Linked DNA regions of Homo sapiens. The protein of the gene in region 1 interacts with the protein of each later gene in a pairwise test. Each region holds a gene or a part of one and is shown in the gene's direction. Other genes may lie near its edges.

Evidence for each region.
Region 2: the proteins of WFS1 (region 1) and FAM9A interact in binary tests that used the Homo sapiens proteins (3 or more experiments, as listed by UniProt).
Region 3: the proteins of WFS1 (region 1) and ZNF488 interact in binary tests that used the Homo sapiens proteins (3 or more experiments, as listed by UniProt).

The regions. Positions count from the first base shown.
Region 1 is NC_000004.12:6,272,850-6,276,598, forward strand, and holds part of WFS1 (wolframin), read left to right. Parts: intron 1-3,749. UniProt on the Homo sapiens protein: Participates in the regulation of cellular Ca(2+) homeostasis, at least partly, by modulating the filling state of the endoplasmic reticulum Ca(2+) store.
Region 2 is NC_000023.11:8,799,822-8,803,570, reverse strand, and holds the start of FAM9A (protein FAM9A), read left to right. Parts: upstream 1-2,187; 5' UTR 2,188-2,260; exon of another isoform or gene 2,261-2,331; intron 2,332-3,361; 5' UTR 3,362-3,399; coding exon 3,400-3,490; intron 3,491-3,749.
Region 3 is NC_000010.11:47,370,687-47,374,435, reverse strand, and holds part of ZNF488 (zinc finger protein 488), read left to right. Parts: intron 1-3,749. UniProt on the Homo sapiens protein: Transcriptional repressor. Plays a role in oligodendrocyte differentiation, together with OLIG2. Mediates Notch signaling-activated formation of oligodendrocyte precursors.

The DNA.
Region 1 (3,749 bases):
ACCTTTTCCTTGTCTCAAAACGTTCATGTACGAGGTCACGTTTACCAGCTGTACAGCGTTGCACCATATGGAGGGGTGTAGGCTTTATAGCCAGCCCCTTTCTGGACAGTGCTGAAAGTGCCATATGATGGACATTGTGTGTGAGCCCCGAGGGCATCTCCAGTGACTCCCCTGGACTGGCATCCTGGAGGCAGAGGCACTGATCAGAGAGAGTGAACATCATCTTGGCTTCCCACAGGGGCTGTTTCTGAGGCACTGGCTTGGGAGATGGGGTTGCCCCCCCAGAGAGAACAGAATGGGGGTGGCCTGGGTGAGGGCCAGAGCCCTTAGGGCAGAAGGCCACGTGTGGTCATTCTGCTGCGGGTCTGAGTGGATGCATGGTGCCTGCAGCCCTCTCCAGGTGGCGGCCTCTCAGCTGAACTCCTTGGTGCCGGTGTTTGTGTTTGGACGGGATAAAAATATGCCTCATTGCTCATGAGGAAAGAATGCTAGCAACTTTGGTTTTGTGGATCTTACACAGTGACGGCTTCTAAGCCATTGCTGTGGTCACCAGTAGGGAGTTGGGGCTGAGTGCCCCACCGTGCAGGTGGGGATCTGAGGGTGCAGAGTGGATGCAGCTGGAGATGCCTGGATGCTGGGGTCTGGGGGAGGGACTTGCTAAGGTCCCACAGCATTATTGCCTGGATGGTGCTCCTGCCCTAGGCCAGGCTGCCTCAGGCTTCTGCCCACATGCATTAAGTGCTTAACGTATTCCTGGCAAGGCAGCCGGTCTTCCGAGTGGATAAGCTGCAGCCCTGCCCTCAGGGCTCACAGTGGCTGTAACATGCAGGAAGACTCAGAGAGGGAAGGACCAGACAGCAGGTCCTTCCACCGGGAGATCTTTTCTGATCTTCATTGTCCCTGTGACCAACCATGACCAGGAATTGTTGTGCTTGTTTTGAAATAACAAGCCCTTTGATCCAAACCAGACTTGGCCAACCCCCAGGGAACCTGAAAATTAATCCTCCTGTATTCATCCATTCTTACTAACCAGAGATTTTACTTTAAACAGTTTTTTTTTAACTGCAGTGTGACATACATGGTACATAGGCCAGCTAGAATCTGTTTTCCTGAAATTCCTTTTATGAAGTGTTTTCCAACTGAACATGCCTTTGTTTAGCACCTGGGAGTAATGGCTTAGGGTTTTTCTTTTCCTTTTTCTTTTTTCTTTTTTTTGAGACGGAGTCTCGCTTTGTCACCCAGGCTGGAGTGCAGTGGCGCGATCTCGGCTCACTGCAAGCTCCATCTCCTGGGTTCACACCATTCTCCTGCCTCAGCCTCCCCAGTAGTTGGGACTATCGGCGCCCGCCACCACGCCTGGCTAATTTTTTTGTATTTTTAATAGAGACGGGGTTTCACTGTGTTAGCCAGGATGGTCTTGATCTCCTGACCTTGTGATCTGCCCGCCTCGGCCTCCCAAAGTGCTGGGATTACAGGCGTGAGCCACCGCGCCTGGCCGGCTTAGTTTTTTTTTAATGCCCAATAGTTTGCTTTCTCTTCTGCCACACACGTAATCCCCATAGCACCCCTATGTGGGAGGTGCTATCCCCATTTTACATATGGGGAAACAGACACAGTGAGGTCATGTGGCCACTAGTAAGGGTAACCGACGCCCCACACCATGTTGCTTCCAGCTGTAACCTCTAGCAGAGGGAGGGCTCTGATGGAGAGGTGATCGCCTGAGTGCTGTGTGTTTACCTGAGTAGGTGAGGAAGACAGGGACTCGGGACAGACATAGCTTGGAAGCTCCCACAAAGGAGGTATCGCTGGAGCTCTTGACTTGAAGGGTGCTTAGGGTCTAGGCTGGGGGAGGGGGGTAAGAAGGCATTCCGGGAAGAGGGCCCTGCAGAAACAGAAGTGTGGAGGTCAGCATTTGTATGCTGATGTTGAAGGGTAGCCAGTGTTTTGCAGTGAATGGGCCCCGGGAGAGAGGGTGCAGTGGCATGGCGGTCTGATTTCAAAGTCGTCTTTTTCAGAAATGAGCTTGCAGAAGCATTAGAATTGGGCAGGTCTGGATTTGAATTTCAGGTCTGGTACCTGGAGCTGTTTGACCTTGAGCAGGTCCCTCCCCTCCCTGCACCTGGGTTCCTGTCTGTGAAGTGGGGTGAGGTTGAAGGATAAAACATTTCCCCATCTATAACTCTGGGATGACAATAGGATCTACCTTCCAGGTCCATGCGAGGAACTCACGACAATAGGACCTACCTTCCAGGGCCATACGAGAAACTCATGAGAAAAGACAAGTACAGAGAACAGAGCCGTTGGTCTTGATGGCAGAGATGCCCTGGCGTAGGTCAGCCCTCAGTAAAGGTGCCCTCTCTCTCTGTCTGAGAAAGTGACACCTGACTTCGGGGCAGTGGGAACCATGGGAGAGAAGGTAGACAAGGCCACGTGTCATTTGAAGACCTGACTTTTCACCATCTCAGGTGGTCCGGTGGCCTGCAGGACCGTGGTTCTGTTTGCCCACAGCGTGTGGGTTCTACGTGCGATCCTGTATTTCTCTGCCACAGCTGACTAAGGGGACACTTAGGTCTGCACGTGCAGTTAAATGGCTGCTTTTGTGGAAGGTGCCAGTTCCCGGGAGCTGGGAACTTGGAAACAGGATGGAGCAGGCTCCCAAGCTTGACCATGCATGGTTTGCACCTGGGGGATGCACCCGGGGGTGCTTGACCATGCATGGTTTGCACCTGGGGGATGCACGGGGGTGGGGTGGGGGGGGGGGGTGTGCTTGACCATGCATGGTTTGCACCTGGGGGATGTTTTACACTAAGGGCTCAGTCCCTCTGAGGGAGGAACGTGTGGATTGAAATCTGCAGAGTTCTTGAGCGACACCAGTCTGATCTTTAGGACTCATTTGCAGCGGGAATGGAGCAGAAATTGTTGTGTGTGGAGCCTGGGGCCACTCCTGACTCTTCCAGTCACAGCTGCCCCCAAAAGTGACCTCTGGGCACCTACTCAGACCTGGCTGCTCAGTGCCAAGCGCTGGGTGTTCAGAGGTGGCCAGGGGACTCCCTCGTGCTGCCCATGGTGTCTGGTCTCACTGGTCCTCACAGTTGCCCCGTCCCCATTTTCAGATGAGGAGGCTGAGGTGCAGAGCGGGATGTGGGCTGCTCAGGACCACACAGCTGGTGGGCACAGAGCCAGGAGTACAGCGCTGCGGCAGCTTGGGGCTGGGAGCGAGACTCTCTGTTACCAGCCTCTCCCTGCTCTGTGCCTCAGAGGATGGCTGTGGCCCTGAGCTTGGGAGGGTCATTTGGGAATCTGAGGAAAAGTTTCCACAGCCTCACACAGCAGCAGGTTCAAGGTCCAGCAGTGCCAGGGGTTTGCATCCCACCCCTAACGCCGCTCATCCAGGGCCCATCCGGGTCCGGGGCTCGGGATCCTGCAGCGCTTTCAGCTCTGTGTCTGTGGCCGGTGGTTGTCCTTCATTACAGGGATGGTGGTGTTTTTCCATGTTGCTAAGCAGCATGTGAGGGCCTCTGTTGAATAAAATAAAGCCCTTGCTCCGGCGTGACACGGGTCACGGGATCTCTGCTCACTCTAGTCTCTTCTGATGCCCCCACCGCACTGTTTGCCTTAGTTTGCTTTTTACTCTCTGTGTTGGTTTCTGGGGCATCAGTCCTCTGACTTCGGTGCTGTGGCTTGGGCCTGGGGTGGGGGCTGTGGAGCGGCAGATCTGGGTATGAATCCCAGCTCCACCCATTTGGCTC
Region 2 (3,749 bases), on another chromosome or scaffold:
TAAACCCTTGGAATATCCTGCCTGATCATAACGTGTTTGTTTACCTGGAGCTTTGAGTCATGCTAGACAGTTAATGCTGATGATTTATAGTGGGGGCTTTGGGCCACCTGTATCAGTCTTGACCTCTGGAGGGGCTGGTGACTAATTTCGGTCATGCAGACAGTCGGCCATGCCTACATGCTCCCAAAACCACACTGGATGTCAGGCTTGGGGGAGCTCCCTGGGCAGCAATGTTCTGTGCAGGTTTCCTCACATCACTGCTGGGAGAATTAAACATCATTTGGTTCCATTTCCCAGCTGCTGAAAAACTGTAATGTTGGGAAGAAATTAATAATTCAGCTTAAATCCAAAGGAAGAATGTTGATTGTGTAGATTTTGTAGAATTTTTTTTAAAATGTTGAGGGAAGAAGGGAAGACCAACTATGTAGAAAAGGGAGCCTTTATTATGAACACACAACTCTTTAAAACAAGTGAAGTAATACCCATGTAGAATAAAAGCAAAGAAAAAAGAAACAATTCAGATAATCATCACATAAGAACACTTATATGTTTTATTTTATCTTATTTTATTTATTTTATTTTATTTTGAGACAGAGTCTCCTTGTGTCACCCAGGCTGGAGGGCCATGGTGCGATCTTGGCTCACTGCAACCTCCGCCTCCTGGGTTCAAACGATTCTCGCGCCTCAGCCACCCAAGTATCTGGGATTACAGGCGTGGTGCCACCCAGTTTTTTTTGTAATTTTGGTAGAGACGGGGTTTCACCATGTTGGCCAGGGTGGTCTCGAACTCCTGGCCTCCAGTGATCTGCCCGTCTCAGCCTCCCAAGGTGCTGAGATTACAGGCATGAGCCACTGCACCCAGCCACTTACATGAAACATCTGACTGCATTGCTGAATTCAAAATATCTGAATATGTTATACAGAAAAATGTTTTGGAAATCTAATGAAAATTAATAACGAAATACAATGTTCTACTTACAGTCATTGTTGACTTATCTTAATAATTTGTTTGTTTTGTAATGTGACAAAATAGATCTATATTGTTCATCTTGTCAAAAATATTTATGTGCAGAACTGTATTTTAAAACAAGCAAGTACAAAAGGAAATAAATTAAAGTACACGAATATTTTATTACCTCTCAAAATAGCCTGACTTGAAAAGACCATCACTCCATGGCCAATGGATCTACTTGATCCTGAAATAACCGAGAGTGGGGTGTATCTGTTACTATCAGCAGGTCAACCTTACAGCAACAAGAAGAAAGGCCTTTGACAACCTGATGGTCACTCCTGGGATTTCTATGGCTAACTTAAGTGGCAAGAACTAGCAGGAAACTAGTTGACTTTTTTTGAAGAAAGAAATGACAAAAGTTTCTCAATCAGTACCTTTTAGTCATCATTTCTTGGAAACAACTATACATCATACAGTTGATGCCTTTAAAGACACGACTTTGGGTATGGGCTCAGTGGCTCATGCCTGTAATCCCAGCACTTTGGGAGGCTGAGGCAGGTGGATCACTTTGATGTCAGGACTTCGAGACCAGCCTGGCCAACATGACGAAACCCCGTCTCTACTAAAAATACAAAAATTAGCCGAGAATGGTGGCACGCACCTGTAATCCCAGCTCCTTGGGAGGCTGAGGTGGGAGAATCGCTTGAACCCGAGAGGTGGAGGTTGCAGTGAGCCAAGATCTTGCCACTGCACTCCAGCCTGGGCGACAGAGAGAGACTCCGTCTCCAAAACAAACAAACAAGCAAGCAAAAAACATAAAAGCACAATCCATTGATAAAAAGGGTGCAGCTGGACATGGTGGAAACACACAGGGCATGGGAGGGAGCCTGGGCTCCACCTGCAAGGCGAAGGCCATTCTAGCCAAAGGGGCAGGGGTGGCTGGAAGGAGCTCGGGGGCGAGGTCCTAGGCCCCGTCCACTTGGCTTCCATCCCGAGTCCTTGCATCCCTCCCCAGGAGGAGGCGCTGAAAACTTCTGGGGACAGAGGCCCCAAAGAACCACCACCCACCCCAGTCCACAGCAAATATGGGTGGTCCCTTACGGAAAGAGGGAAGGCGTGTCAGCAGGGGTCGTGGCCCCCAAGGTCCTTCACCCGCATGCGCATGCGCACTTAGCTGACCAATCAGAGAGGAGCGTGGATAGCCAGGGCAGCTGCTCTCGCGAGAACTGAGGACCCATTTTTCTAAGAGAGCGTCGTGGTGCCAGTGCCTGCAGGTTCTGTGAGGAAGCGGCATCAGGGGTCCCTCAGGTGAAGCGCTCGCGGTGGGGAGGCAGGAAGTCGAGCATGCGGCCCTCTCGCAACCAGGGTGTGAAGCGCAGGTGAAGCGCTCGCGGTAGGGAGGCAGGAAGTCGAGCATGCTGCCCTCTCGCAACCAGGGTGTGAAGCGCTGAGCGGCCGGCTGACCTGCACACGGGCAGCCCGAGACCCCTGGCCCCTTCTTGGCTTTGGAGTCCACCATGCACGTGCTAAGAGGCCCCAGGTTTTCAAAGCAGGAAATGGCCCTGGCATCGTTGCCTGGGGCCTGGGTCAGGGCGAGGCCCTGAGGGTGGGCTGGGATGGGCCAGGGCAGGGAGGGAGCTGGAGACACCTGAGTGATCCCCAGGGCCCAGGAGTGTCCCCGGGACTTGTGCATGTGTGCAGTGGGTAGGGGTGGGGCAGGGGAGGGGGGCTTGGGGGAATGGAGGGGGTGGAGAGGGGAGCAAGGGAGGGGTGGTGGCAGAGGGTGGAGGGTCGGGGAAGTGGCAGACAGGCAGGGGCCGGGTGTGGGGCCAGGGATGGGGGCAGGGGAGGGGAGGGGTGTGGGGTTCGTGGGGTGAGGGGATGGGGGAAGGGGAGGAGGAGGGGCGGAGTGTGTGGGGAGGCGACAAGCAGGGGTGTTGTGGGGGACAGTTCGAGTGGGTCCCTCCAGCCCGGCCGCCCGTCAGGACAGGACACTTGGGGTCACGAGGGGTCACCTGGGCATCCAGGCAGGCAAGTGGCAGTGCAGCCCCTGACATTCCCCCAGAGATGGCTGGGGAGGTCCTGTGACACCCGTGGTCCTCCGGGCCACGCAGGTCTCTGGGGCACACAGGGGCAGGGCTGAACTCTGTCCCAGGGACACCGCAAGGATCCTGCAGGGGCCATTCAGGTGTGCGAGGCAGCTGTGAGTTCTGCAGCCAGCCCCAGGGACGGGCTGGACGGGCCACGAAGGATAGGAGGGGACACTGGCATCTTCTCCGACCCCTCCTGCTCCCACAGGATACACGGGGTGGGCCAGCCCCACCCTTTCTTGAATCCGAGATCCCGTTGGCTCTCCTTTCACATATCCTGTTTCCTTAGCTTACTTAGTTTGACTTTGCACTCAACCAGGTTCAGGGATCGCCTCTAACTTCCCAGGACAGCCAACCATGGAGCCCGTGGGCAGGAAGCGCAGCAGGAAGGCTGCCAAAGCTCAGTTGGAAGCTCAAGTTACGGCCGCCCAGGGGGCCACGAAAGAAGGTGCACGCCCAAGGAGATGGTCTGTTTGCTCTCTGCGCGGGGGGCACATGGGCAGCCCGAGACCCCTGGCCCCTTTGTGGCTTTGGAGTCCACCATGCACGTGCTAAGAGGCCCCAGGTTTTCAAAGCAGGAAATGGCCCTGGCATCGTTGCCTGGGGCCTGGGTCAGGGCGAGGCCCTGAGGGTGGGCTGGGATGGGCCAGGGCAGGGAGGGAGCTGGAGACACCTGAGTGATCCCCAGGGCCCGGGATTGTCCCGGG
Region 3 (3,749 bases), on another chromosome or scaffold:
CTATTAATCCACCTCTTTTAGAAGGAGTCCACAGTCCTGTTTGTATTTGAATATTCATGAACATTAGAAGAGCAACTTAGTCTGGGTATGGCTATGGCTGACAGAAGTATCATGCTGTGTCACAGCTGATTATTAGATCTGCATTTTTTGCCCTTTAGCTTGTCAAAATAATGTCTAAAAAACCAGATTGATCACAAAAGATGCATCATAATGCCACATAAAGATGTCACTCGGCGCCTTATAGTATTTAGGACCATAGAGGACACCTGGTGCAGCCTCCTCATTTTGCAGCTGAGCAAGATCTTTGAAGGACAAGGACCTGCCCAAGGCCATCTAGAAACACTGAAGTTGAGACTCATACCCGAGCATCTTAGCTTTTGCCCACCCCACGCTGTTTCTCAGTCTTAACCAGCAAGCTTTCCTTGTTATTTTGGTTTGTCTTACGTCTAGGTTTGATTTGGCAGCACATTTCAACATCTGGTGAAGGCATGGGAATAAAACAGTGTAGGTGGATGGAGCACCTAAGAGCAGAATGTTTGGTGTTCTCTCAGGGTACACTGGGCAAGGCCTGCTGGGCCGTCCTTCCTCGCCATGCTGCCTGCGTTTATTCAGTTAAGAAAGTGGCACATTTTGTATCTTTGAGAATGCAACTATTTTAGTTAGGAGAGTGATGTTCCGTCTATGGAAGACTTTGCCTCTCTCCATCTTGGGCTTGGAGAAGGTGTCCCATGTCCCAGCAGCATGGCTGTGTACAGTCATTGATTCTTTTGTTTACTTCTCCATGCCGTACATTTTGTTCCTGTCCCTTGATCACAAAGAAATAAATGAACGTTCCTGAGGCACTGACATGGGCCGGGTGAGGTGGGAGCCTCCTTCTAGATATTATTATCCTATTTAAATGCATTATGTTCCCACTCATTTCACGATTGCCCAGTATTCAGAGAAGTTGCATTACACAACTGAAGCTCCATAATAAATGCGTGGAGGTGAGATTCAAACCCACGTCTTTCCCATTCTACTTTTTGTGCCTTTCTGTTTTAATTTGCTTCTTGGTATTCCTGTGTATTATTAATAGTCTGAAGCTTGGAAATAGATGCAATAGTCATTAGAGTGAAGAAAATACAGTGCCGTGCTCTCTGAAGGATAACAAGGACATTTTTGTTGTAATTACTATTTTGATTTTTCTTTTAAGAATGTTGCCGAGGAAGGAAAACAGAGGGAAAAACCAGCAAAGCTCACTGTGTCTAACTTTTGCCACATGCATGGACCTAATTTCTTACTTGCCAAGCACTAGAGCCTTTATTTTTGAGACTCTGTGAGGGTGGCTGAGTTCTGTGTGTTTGCTGGGGTTGGAAAAATCTAGTGTGATGGGGGTCAGTGGCCCCATGACACGCCAAGGCAGAGTAAGCCACAGAGCTCAGTCTGCCATAGGTGTGGCTTCCTTCCTTCCTCACATCTGTGTCAACACCCGGCAGGAGGTGCCTGATTCCAGTGGGGATGAAGCAGCCTCTGCCCATCCCTCCATCACCCATCAAGAGCTCTGGACACACATGAGGTTGAACCCCCAGATGGTGGCTGCCAGGGGAGTGTGTCCACCTCTCACTTAGGCCAGGTGCGTGGCATCTCACTGCGGCAGGCATCCCATGGGCGAGGTCGGTGCTCTCCTGATGTCTTTGATATTTTTCTTTATCTGGCCTAGTCTGAGACCAGTACTTTCCCCTGCCTGTGACCCCTGACTTCATTTGCAAAGTTTTCTCATGCACTTTCTGAAATTTTCATGACAGAGAGCCCTGGAGGAATTTGGGGCAACGATGGAGGTGGAAGAAGGTTTAAAGCTGGGAATCTTTATGCATTTTCTCTGTTTTCTCCTTCTCTTTATTTTTTTTCTTGACCTATACTTCACACTGGTCTCTGTCTTCTCCATGCTTAGAAAGCAGAGGAGGCTTGAGCTTCCAGCAAAGACCTTGCGACATGTTACTGGATACAGGCTGGTGCATAGAAGGGGTGGGTGGGGAGGGCTGACAGGAGGGTGTCCCTCCCCTGAGCATCACCGGCTCTGTTCTTGGCCAGTTGCTCTTTGTCCCCACATTTCAGGTTCTCTTCCTGCATTCAAGCATGGGCAGGGCCAGGGCTGCTGTTTCAGGACTGCATCTAGCCCTGAAGTTTTCTCTGGGCCTCCACAGGGGACCTTCCTACTCTGAACTCCACATGCATTCTCCAGGCCACACTGCACACTCACCCTACTCTCCAGTCATTTCCAACTACTTAGAATTCAGTCAGTGTTGAGAGTCACCAGTCTTATGTAGACTGGAGCCTGGCACATAGTAGGTGCTTTTTGCATGTTTACTGAGTGAATGAATGAACAGAAAATGAAATGCACTTTGCCTAAAAGCTGATCTGATCTGATCTGAGTGCCCAGGCATTTCACCCTTCTTCCAAAGCTCTCCTTTTGTTCCTGTGGCCCAGGGAATGCTCAGTTCCAGGCTTGGCAGAGGAGGGGTCTCTCTAGGCAGTGTGAAACAGACTGTGAAGCCCCCATGAGAAATAGTCCACCCACTGGGAAGGCCCCTCCGCTCCCAGGAAACTCCAGCCAGAGCACTCCAGCGTGGGGGCTAGGACTCCTCTTTTCCAAAGGAGAGTAGACAGTGGGAGGAATTCACCTCAGAATGATTTCCTGGAGCAGTTAGGAAAGTAGCATCTCTGAAGTCACAGAGGCTTCAGCTCCACTGGGCCGTGAGAATCCCTTACAGAATTCTGACCCCGACCAAGCAGAAAAGGGCACTGCCGCCTTTAAAACAGTTGACTGCAGAACAAAACAAAATGCTAAAATAAGACTAGAGTAGTTTGAAAATATTGGAAAGTTGAGAAAAAACTCCCCCAAATTCCATGATACTAGCATCATCATAGTATATAGCACATTACATATATAGTGTATTATATGGTATATTATGTATACATACTATGTATACTATATGTTATATGGTGTATGTACATAGTAAAAATTATTTTTCACATATCTATTGCTTTGGTATGTTTTCTTTCATGTTTTTGTTTATTTGGTAGATAGGCTTTTTTCCTGTTTTGTTTTACAACATGTTTATATCTGACACTAACATTGTATTATAAGCTTTTTTTTCCCATACTATTGCGTAGTCTTTATAGCCACACTTAAAAAATGAATCATTTATTTCTAAAAACAGTCAGGTCCATTTTATTTTGGCTTCTGGATCCTGCCCCTCCCCGGGCACTCTCCCACTGCAGAACTATGTTAGGCTCAGTTCCCCAGAGAGCCCTCAGGTTTTCCACACCACAGGCCCCATGCAAGCTTCTTGTGAACCCTGGGCAGTCCCTTCTGGGTCCTCAGAGCTCAGTTTAGATGCCACCATTGCCTGTTTGCAACACTGGCACATGTGCAGGTCCCTGTGTTCTGTACAGCTGAACTCAGGACTGCCTCATCACCACTGTCACTACCGCGCCTCGCACAGGGCCCGCATGCTGCATGCTCTCAGTGAATGCTTGCGGAATGAACGGAAGAGGGAATCAATGAACAAATGACCTGGTGGTCATTTTCTGTGTTTCCTCCTGGGGTTTTTCCTTTGGTGTATGCATTTTGTGTGTGTGTGTGCATAGAATAGGTTACACCAAATCTATAATCTTTTTGTCCTTTTGCCTCCTCAGCATTCGTTCATAAGCATAGCGAGCATCACTGTCCGAGGCTGCACAGTGCTTCGTCTTGCGTATGCATCCTG